Linked DNA regions of Homo sapiens: region 2 is linked to region 1. The links come from fine-mapping of genetic effects on gene expression. A gene starts in region 1. The other region holds a variant in brackets. All regions are shown on one strand. Distances are from middle to middle.

Region 1 (5,385 bases):
ATTCTAGCTTTCTTGGCTTCCCTGGCCAACATGGTGAAACGCGGTCTCCACTAAAAATACAAAAATTAGCTGGGCGTGGTGGTGCACACCTGCAGTCCCAGCTACTAGGGAAGCTGAGGCTTCCCTGGTCTTCAAACATTGTCTCCTCAACTAAAAGAGTTTGCTGGAATATTTTTGATTTTTCCTTTCTACAGTGAAGCCTGGAAATGCTCTCCAGATAGTAGGACTGAAAATAAGAAAGATCATCCCTAAGTTTCCAACCTTGTTGAGGATAGCTGTTTTGCATAGCCTTTTAAAAATAGCTTTGTTCATATAATTCCTATACCATAAAATTCAGTGTAATTTCAGTAAATTCAGTAAATTTAATTCAGAGTCGTAAAATTCTCCCAACTATCTCATTTTGAAACATTTTCATAACCCAAAATCTAGTACCCATTAGCAGTAAGTCATTATTCTACCTTGTCCCCAACCCCTAGGAACAACCCATCTACTTTCTTTCCCTATGGATTTGCCTCTTATAGACATGTCATGTAAATGGAATCATATAATGTGGCCCTTTTATACTAGCTTCTTTCATTTTGCATAATGTTGTATATATATACACACATTATATACATATATACACACATATACACACACACACACACACACACACATATATATATATATATATATATTTTAGACAGTCTTGCTCTGTCACCAAGGCTGTAGTGCATTCGTGCAATCTTGGCTCACTGCAACCTCCACCTCCTGGATTCAAGCAATTCTCATGCCTCAGCTTCCCTAGGAGCTGGAAGTGCAGGTGTGCATCTCCACGCCCAGCTAATTTTTGTATTTTTAGTAGAGATGGCGTTTCACTATGTTGGCCAGGCTGGTCTCGAGCTCCTGGCCTCAAAAGATCCGACCCCCCACCCCCGCCTCCCAAAGTACTGGGATTACAGGCATGAGCAACCATGCCCAGCCCATGTTTTCAAGGTCTGTCCATGTTGTAGCATGAATCAGTACCCTCACAGACAAACCCAGGAGCAATACTGTGCATCCTTTAATCCAATCACGTTGACACTCACTATTAACCATCACAGTTGACTAGAAGTGGCAAGTACTGTCATCTTTATCTAGTTCTTGATCTTAGGAGGAAAGCACTCAGTATTTCACCCTAGAGTATGATGTTAGCTGTGAGGTTTTCATAGACGCCTTTTATCAGGTTAAAAAAGTTTTCAAGCTTTCCCGGCTTGTTAAGTGTTTTATCATGAAAGGGTGTTGAAGTTTGTTTGATGCTTTTTCTTCACCTATCAAGATGATCATATGGTTTTTTACATTTTTATTCTTAATATGGTGTATTACATTGATTTCTATAACTTATGAATATATATTTTACTACCTATTATAAATATATTTACATAGCTGATTTAAAGTCTTTGTTTAGTAATTCCAACATCTGGACTACCTCAGAAACAGTTTCTATCTTTCTGGCTACATTTGCCAGGTATTTTTTTTTTAACTAGATATGGGGTCTCACTTTGTGGCCCAGGTTGGTCTCAAACTACAGGGCTCAAGTGAGCCTCCCACCTCAGCCTCCTAGAGTGCTGGATTACATGCTAGCTTTTGTTGTTGCTTTTTTTAGGAGCAGATTTTCTGAAGTCCTTACACTTCAATTCTGAAAATTCTATCTCCCCATGCTACCTTTTTCAATATCTAAAATCACTTGCTTTGTACATTTTGTCTGGCTTTCCTGATGTTTATTTATTTACTAACTAATGTTCACACTTTATTCCTAGTTCCTTACTTTTTCTTTTTTCCTTTTTTTAACACAGAGTCTTGCTCTTGTCACCCAGGCTGGAGTGCAGTGGCACGATCTCTGCTCACTGCAATCTCCACCTCCTAGGTTCAAGTGATTCTCCTGCCTCAGCCTCCCAAGTAGCTGAGATTACAAGCACACACCACCATGCCCGGCTAATTTTTTTTTATTTTTAGTAGAGATGGGGTTTCACCATGATGGCTAGGCTGGTCTCAAACCCCTGACCTCAGGTGATCCACCAGCCTCGGCCTCCCAAAATGCTGGGATTACAGGCGTGAGCCAGTGCGCTCGGCCTATTTCCTTACTTTTAAAATCTAATATCCTTTTTTTGTGTTCCAGGATCCCATCGAGGATATTATATTATATTCAGTCATCCTGTCTCCTTCGGCTTCTCTTGACTGTGAGTTTCTCATATTTTACTGTTTTTTTTTTTGTTTGATGACCCTGACAGTTTTAAGGAATATTGATGAAATATTTTATAGAATGTCTCTCAGTTGGGATTTGCCTGATTGTTTTGCAAAATCAGACTAGAGTGAATAGGGGCGTATCCATTTATTGTTTACTCCATGTTGTCCCACATGGAAGTTTTCCTGAACATTGGTCTTTTGCCTCTTTTGGAAAGTATTTATAAATTTACACATCAAAACGTATTGCTATTCCTGTTTATTGAGTCTCTGATTATATTATGTTAAAATAATATAATAAAATAATCCCATTTCCTTATTCTTTTATATTCTCTCTCTGCTATAATCTATATGATTTAGCTCTATTTTTTATTTAATTCTCTTTTGAGCTGTATCTAAATTGCTGTTGAGCTGCTTTTAGTTTTCATTTTAATTACACTTTTATTTCTAGAGATTTTTATTTTGTTCTCATATATATGTACTCCTGATTATTTTTAAATTGTGGCTACTAACTTTTTTAGTCTCATTCTGTTGTTATTTCTGCTAACTCTTGCTCATTATGTCTTTTTTTCCTTTAACTTAAAAAAATAACTTTTTTTAAGAGACAGGGTCTCACTCTGTCAACCCAGCTGTAGTGCAATGGGGTGTAGCTTACTGTAGCCTCAAACTCCTGGGCTCAAGTGATCCTTCCATGTCAGCCTCCTGCATAGCTGGGACTACAGGTGTGTACTACTATGCCCAGCTAATTTTTTTTTTAATTTTGTGCAGAGATAAGATCTTGCTATGTTGCCCATGCTGGCCCCAAACTCCCGAACTCAAGTGATCCTCTTGCCTAGGCTTCCCAGAGTGCTGGGATTATAAGCGTGAGCCACTGCGCCGAGCCTTGTTTGTATTTTTTAAACTCATAAATTTTGGAACTTTATCTCTAGAAAGTCTTTGAAGTCTGGGCTTAAACCATTTTCCAGAAAGGATTTTTGTTTACTTTTACCTAATTCCAACGTAAACCAAATTCTTCTTAGTTTATTATTTTTAAGCCATGGATGCAGTTTGAGTGTATTCTCAATCTTTCATTAGACGTTGATACTTCTCAGAAGTTTAAAAATATATCCTTGTCAAAAACGCAACACTTCTCAGAAGTTTTAAAAAATATGGTTAAGTCAAAAACGCAGAAAAAGAAATTTGCTTTTTCTTGCTATCTCCAAAAATAAATTAGACTTAAAAAAAATAATTCTTACACTATGAGCTTAGTCCTTCAGTGGTCCTAGCTTTAGGGAAAGGTCTCCAATACCATGATCTCCTCCCCATGCTTTGACACCGTGCTTTGTCTCTTGTTTCTTGTGAAGCTTTAAGAAATAAAGTTCTGTCTTTATTTACTTATTTATTCATTTATTTATTTATTTATTTTGAGATGGAGTCTCACTGTATCGCCCAGGCTGGAGTGCAGTGTCGTGATCTCGGCTCACTGCAACCTCCACCTTTTGGGTTCAAGCAATTGATGTGTACCACCACATCCTGCTGATTTTTCTAGTTTTAGTAGAGACAGGGTTTCACCATGTTGGCCAGGCTGGTCTCAAACTCCTGACCTCAGGTGATCTACCCGCCTCAGCCTCCCAAAGTGCTGGGATTACAGACATGAGCCACTGTGCCCGGCCTCTGTCTTTATTTTTAAAGAAGATTGGCACTCGCTTACCTCTGTGAATTCACATTTTCTTGGTATTTCTAGACTTCTAAATTTTATTTTTCTTACAAGGAAGTAGATATATCTAGGAGTTTTGAAATGAAAATGTGTTCTATGCATTTAGTTTGCCTAATTGCTAGAAACAGGAGTCCTACAAAGATTTTTGAAAATTTTTTGGAAGTCTAATTATAATGACCTACCTTTTTACCTAACTGTAATTGCTTTGACTGATGATCATAATATAATATTTGTCACTTTTTTTTTGTTTTGTTTTGAGACGGAGTCTTGCTCTGTCGCCAGGCTGGAGTGCAGTGGCGCCATCTCGGCTCACTACAACCGCCGCCTCCTGGGTTCAAGAGATTCTTGTGCCTCAGCCTCCCAAGTAGCTGGGATTACAGGCACATGCCACCATACCCAGCTAATTTTTGTATTTTTAGTAGAGACGGGGTTTCAGTGTGTTGGCCAGGATGGTCTCGATCTCCTGACCTCGTGATCTGCCTACCTCAACCTCCCAAAGTGCTGGGATTACAGGTGTGAGCCACTGTGCCCAGCCCATATTTGTCACTATTATGAAATAAATATAAACCATTATAATTATATTTAATATTCAGTCGAATTCTTTTTAGAGCTGGCCTTAGAGAGACACTGAGTATTGCTTAATTTTATAAATAAAGGCCTATTGCTCATTCTAGGACCTTATTTTATTGTAGCTGTGCTGTGGTGTGTTCTTATTACTAAAAGAAAGCAAATTACCATTATAGTAGTTACTTGGGACACTTTTTAGTAGTTTTATTGATCCACAGTGTAGTAGCTTCAGCCTAGAACAAAAGTATATTTTTTAACAACCCCAAAACAAAAAACAAATACAACACAAACATACCCTGACACCAGCACAGTCTTATCACACTTTTAATTCCCTCATAATACAATACAACAACCATTCTTTTATTAATGGAGGATGGGGTAGGGAGTATGTTATCAGTAGACTTAGAAAAAATTAGCTTAGTCATTGAAACCTTTGCCTTTTTTCTAGGAATTCCTTTCTCATATTCTTGTGTCTTCTTGGCATTGTTACGATCTTCAGCATGAGTCATATGCCCTGAAAAATGCAGACTGTACTAAATACCTTAGCACTGGTGTTCCTCTGCTTTGACCATATGGAAACTTACATTATTACAGATTAGACCTATCAACTAAGGGAAACAGAAAGGTTATTATTCAATGGTTTTATTTGTAAATGATCATTGGCACTCGGCATTCATTCTGACCGCATTCTAGTGTGCCATCCTGTACGTCGAAGGCTAGAAATAAAAAGAATACATTTCCTAGAATTCTTTACAGTTAGAGTCCTCAATATGAATTAGTTGGGTGCACTTATATGAAATTTAAAATATTGAAATGACGTGGAAGGTGTCCTATGTTTTTGCTTTTTCTACTGTCAGAAATATTCTTGGAACATTTTTTTTTTCTGCAGCAGATTTTCATTGTCCAGTTACTAGGTACAT
Region 2 (5,385 bases), 240 kb before region 1:
AGCTTCCATGAGGTTCCTCTCTTAAAAAGCTGGGACCACGTGTAGCTGGGACCACAGGCGCTTGCCACCGTGCCCAGCTAATTTATTTCTTTATTTTTTGTAGAGATGGGGTCTCACTTTGTTGCCCAGGCTGGCCTCACACTGCTGGCCTCAAGCGATCATCTGCCTCAGCGTCCCATAGGCATGAACCAATGCACTGGGCCCATATTTATTTTTAAGAGGGAACCTAAACTTCTTTTCATAATTTTAAGAGAGATTTTTATATCCTTTGCTCATTTAAAAAATTAGGTGTTTTTTTTCTTCTTGGGGAGCTATAAAGGAAATTAATCTGTGATATGAGTGGTAAATATTTCTTTCAGTTTGTTGTTGTCTTTTGACTTTATATTCTTTTGTTCTTTTCCTGGATGAAAAATTTTATTTTTATGTACTTAAAAGTATTTTATAGTTTCTTAATTTTGCATTTTACTTAAAAGGCGTTTCTTCACCCTACTTTATAAAGGGCCTCACTTTGCTGTATAAAAAGGTTCTCCTGGCTGAGCACAGTGGCTCACGCCTGTAATCCTAGCACTTTGGGAGGTTGAGGCGGGTGGACTGCCTGAGCTCAGGAGTTCGAGACCAGCCTGGGCAACACAGTGAAATCCCGTCTCTACTAAAATACAAAAAGTTAGCCAGGTGTGGGGGCATGCGGCTGTAGGCCCAACTACTCGGGAGGCTGAGGAAGGAGAATTGCTTGAACCCCGGAGGCAGAGGTTGCAGTGAGCCAAGATCATGCCACTGTACTCCAGCCTGGGCAACAGAGTGAGACTCTGTCTCCAAAAAAAAAAAAAGATTCTCCTATACTTTTCATTAGTATTTTTGTGATTTCATTTTTTACACTTAAATATTGATTCATGTGGAATTCACTTTGATGCAGGGTGCAGTAGGGCTCCAGTTTAATTTTTTTTTAGATTGCTACTCAGTTGTTTCAGTACTGCTTAGTGAATAAGCCATCTTTATTATCTTGAGATGTCACTTTTATTATGTACTGAATTTCTCTGTTTATGTTGGGTCTTTAGCTGTACTATGTGGTCTCTTCCATTGATTTGTCTTTTACTGGGCTGTGTCATACTGTTTTTAATTATTGTAGTGTTATATTTTAGTATTTGGTGAGGCTAGACCCTCTTCAATTAACTTTTGCTTTATTTTTTCCAAAGGAAATTTAGGAGCCGGACACATATGTGTGTTCATGTATTTTCATTGGGAATGCATTAAATATATAGATTAATTTAGGGATCATTGGCACTTTTGTGATGTTGAGTATGTCTGTTCAGGAACATGGTATTGCTTTTCCATTTATTCAAGTCTTTCAAGTATTTTTTGGGAGCATTTTAAAGTTGTCTTCATATAGATTTGTATATTTTTTTTCTGTGAAACCAATAGACTCCAAAGCTTTAGTGGCTTATGGCAACAAAGGTTTATTTCTCATTCACGTTACATGCAGCCTGTAGGTCAATGGCAGCCCTGCTTATGTTTCGTATGTTCTTTCATCTAGGAGCTAGGCTGAAAGAATAACAGCCTCAGTTTGGCTGTGTCCCTCTATTTAGGACACACCGTTTTCATGGCGAAGCATAGAGAGCAAGAGAGGAGCTGTTGGAAACATGGAATGGCTCATACACGGCATACTTTTTGTTTTGCTCAGACATGGCATACTTCATATTTGCTCACAATCCCATTGGCCAGCAAGTCGCATAGTCAAGCCCAGCCTCAATGGGCTGGGGATATATGTACTCATCCCACAGGAGGTACCACAAGTCACATAGCAAGGTGCAAGGACATATAAGTCCTTCGGCAGCACAGGGCTTGACGGGTTAAGGGTAGCTGGAATAACAGAACAGGTTGTATTACAATCTTGTTATAAAAAAATTGTTATAAAAAATTCAGAGGCCAGGTGCGGTGGCTCATGCCCATCATCCCATAGCACTTTGGGAGGCCGAGGCGGGCGGATCACCTGAGGTCAGGAGTTGGAGACCATCCTGGCCAACATGGTGAAACCCTGTCTCTACTAAAAATACAAATATTAGCTGGGCATGGTGGCGCATGCCTGTAGTCCCAGCTGCTCGGGAAGCTGAGGCAGGGGGATTGCTTGAACCTGGGAGGTGGAGGTTGCAGTGAGCCGAGATCGCGCCATTGCACCCCAGCCTGGGCCACAGAGCAAGACTCAATCTCAAAAAAAAAAAAAAAAATTCAGATAATATAGAAGTACAGAAAGAAAAAAGTAAAAGATCTCTCTCACCAGTTGCTTAGATCCTACTACCTGGAGACAACCACTGTTAACAGCTTACATATCCTGCAAGCTCTTATTCTATAAACACACAAGTGTATA[T/C]ACAAACATGTATGCATATCTATGTACATAAATTATGTATATACATACAGGTCTTTTTTAATAGAAACTAGAGGATTGTACCGTGATATTCTAAATTTTGCTTTTGTAATAACCTCATATATTTGGAATATCTTTAATGGCAGGAAACACAGAGCTGCTTTACTCTAAGAGTTGCTTTATTTTCCTTTGAGTAGGTAGATGATAATTTTTTAAACTCATCTCCTAATGTTGGGCATTAGCTTGGCCCTTGTTGCAGGGTACATCATTGTGTATAGGCCACTCTGCCCTGTGGCAGAGTACACAGAGTCCCTATGATAATTGTGCAGTAGATGGAGCAAGCTTCAGGCAGATGTGAACTCCTACCTACAGATGTCAGCTGGTCCATAATTCCCTGCCCATTCTCCTTGGTCACATCCGTGTTCACCCTACTCAGGCCCAAAAGGTGTGATCAATGACTGGCGCCGCTTCAAGCAGTTGGAGACAGAGCAGAGGGAGGAGCAGTGCCGGGAGATGGAAAGGCTGATCAAGAAGCTGTCAATGACTTGCAGGTCCCATCTGGATGAAGAGGAGGAGCAACAGAAACAGAAAGACCTCCAGGAGAAGATCAGTGGGAAGGTAATTAGCAGTACTCAGGCTTTTCTTAGAGTCTGCTGTGGCTGCTAGAGCTGGGTGAGTGATTCAAGAGGTGGAGGATGCTTGATTTGACCTCCAAGAAGTTGTGCAGTGCAGGAGAAATCATAGAGCCCTGTCAAAACTCAAACCCACCCAGCTTTGGATCTCAGTTCTGCTACTAGTGACTGTGGGAGAGTCTCTTCCCTTCTGAATCTGGTGTTTCAATGGTTAAATGATGTATCCTCCCCGTGCAGGGCTGTGTTGTTAATATGCCCATCACAGTGTCTGGCCCATTGAAAGTGCTCAGTAAATTTTAGTTTCCCTTCTTTTATTGAGGTTTTATCTTGGGCCAGAAATAACCCTCTTAGGGTGGTGGTATTATCCCCTTCTTACAGATAATGGAAGCAATGCTTAGAGGGCATTAGAGGCTTGTTCAGGGCAATGCAACTGGTAAATTCTAGTAGGCGCTAGGGTTCTAACCCAAATACTCCTGTTTCTTCCATGATGTTGCTATTTCATCTGAAGCCTATTCATGAGAATTTATTCTAAGGAGGCATTATAATAAGCAAACAGATACTCTGGAAGATATTTGGAAGTAGGCACCTGATGGCCTTTTTTTTTTTTTTTTTAATAGAGACAGGGTCTATGTTGCCCAGGCTGGTCTCGGAACTCCTGAGGTCAAGGGACCCTCCCACCATAGCCTCCCAAAGTGCTAGGATTACAGGCGTGAGCCGTGGTGCCCGGCCCGTGATGGCCTCTTATCCTATCAGTATTAAAAGGGATTCACTGTTTCTCTGGATGCCCTCTGAGTGTGGACGAATGTCTGTGAGTGCCTGAGATCATTTAGTTATGGCCCAAAGCTAAAATACCACACAGGATCAGGGAGCAGATAAGAGGATTAAGCTGGGAATCATTCACCTTGACCAGGAGGCTGATTTTAGGACATTACACTTAGCCAAAGACTTCAATAGGTCAGAAGAAGCCACTCTGGTAGACTGAGTTGAAGTGGAGGGCTGCAAGATGGGAGGAAAATTGGCAATAAGTAAAATAGTGAACTCAGAATGTTGCTGGTTATGATAAAGTAACAACGTGTTCTGATCTAGTGTGATCTCCCACTCCCTGTTCCCTAATCTATGCAACATTAGGCAGAGTTAGGTTTTATGAGAGGAGCGAGGATGTCTTGCTGCACCGGGGCAGGGGTAAGATGCTTTCGTAGCTTAAGCTGTCTCTTGGGCATTGTGCCTGCTGCTCACAGCTGCTTCCTGATACTGAGGTGAGAGGCCAGAATGAGGCAACATCATATCATCACATGGATCAGTCTTGTGAGAGGCTGTTCCCGTCCTGCTGATTTATCTGCAATAGAACAGAATTGGAAACTGTCTGGCAGAATTAGGGAAGTGATTAAGCAAAGTGACACATTATATATAATTTCATAAAAATATTTGGAAACATGAGGAAATACTTATAATCGTGCTAAGTCTCGAAAGCAGGTTATGGCTTAATTGGTACACCCACAGCTGCTGCTATAAAAGCAAAACTATTTTAGTATGACTGGTAATAAAAATAATTTTTAGAGTCCATATGACTCTGTGTGTGTGTGTGTGTTTGGGGATGGTGTGGGGCAGGGGTTATGAGAGTTTTTTCTAAAATTCTGTAATGTCTTGTTATCTTTCAAAAAAAAAGTAGATAAAATATTGTCAAGACTGACAAAAAGAAATAAGCTCATGAAGTGAGATTATATGATGCTGCCTATTTGGATTGAGAGGAAATGTGATATTGTAGTTAAAAACATGGGTTTTTAAAATCTAGTTTGAGTACTGGTCTTATGCTTACTGGGTGAACTTGTTCAAATAATGTCAAGTTTTGGAACCTCATTTATAAAGTGGGGCTATTAAAAGTCCCTTCCCGATGGAGTTATGGAATTCAGTGAGATATAATGCATGTAAAGTACTTAGCATGGTGCCTTATATATTATCAGCATGTAGTACATGTTAACTGTTTTATTTCTTTTTATTTTTTTGGAGACAGGGTATCACCCTGTCTCCCAGGCTGGAGTGCACTGGTGTGATCTTGGCTAACTGCAACCTCTGCCTCCCAGGTTCAAGTGATTCTTGTTGTGCCTCAGCCTCCAGTGTAGCTGGGACCACAGGTGCACACCACCATGCCCTGCTAACTTTTTTTTTTTTTTTTTTTTTTAAGGAGAGATGAGGCTTTGCCATGTTGGCCAGGCTGGTCTTGAACTCCTGACCTCAAGTGATCCGCTCGTCTCAGCCTCCCAAAGTGCTAGGATTACAGGCGTGAGCCACCGCGCCCGGCCCATATTAACTGTTATCACGAGTGTTCAGTTTTCATATTTATGCTCACTTGCTGGTCCGCCTGCAGATGACTCTGAAGGAGTTTGCCATAATGAA

The links. PIP is the estimated chance that this variant, and not a neighbour inherited with it, causes the effect.
Region 2: its variant is fine-mapped to the expression of OR1L8 in subcutaneous fat (GTEx, PIP 0.93).

Annotation. Positions count from the first base shown.
Region 1 is chr9:122,580,134-122,585,518 of GRCh38, reverse strand. OR1L8 (olfactory receptor family 1 subfamily L member 8) reads left to right here and starts at 2,135. Exons shown (of 5, transcript NM_001004454.2): 1 at 2,135-2,198. It also overlaps a transcript of OR1J2 not described here.
Region 2 is chr9:122,820,608-122,825,992 of GRCh38, reverse strand. It overlaps PDCL (phosducin like), which reads left to right. Exons shown (of 4, transcript NM_005388.5): 3 at 2,796-2,977; 4 at 5,357-5,385. Among named protein-coding and RNA genes, the nearest start is that of PDCL, 5.3 kb to the left of the region's middle. The variant T/C (reference allele first, on the strand shown) is at 2,363.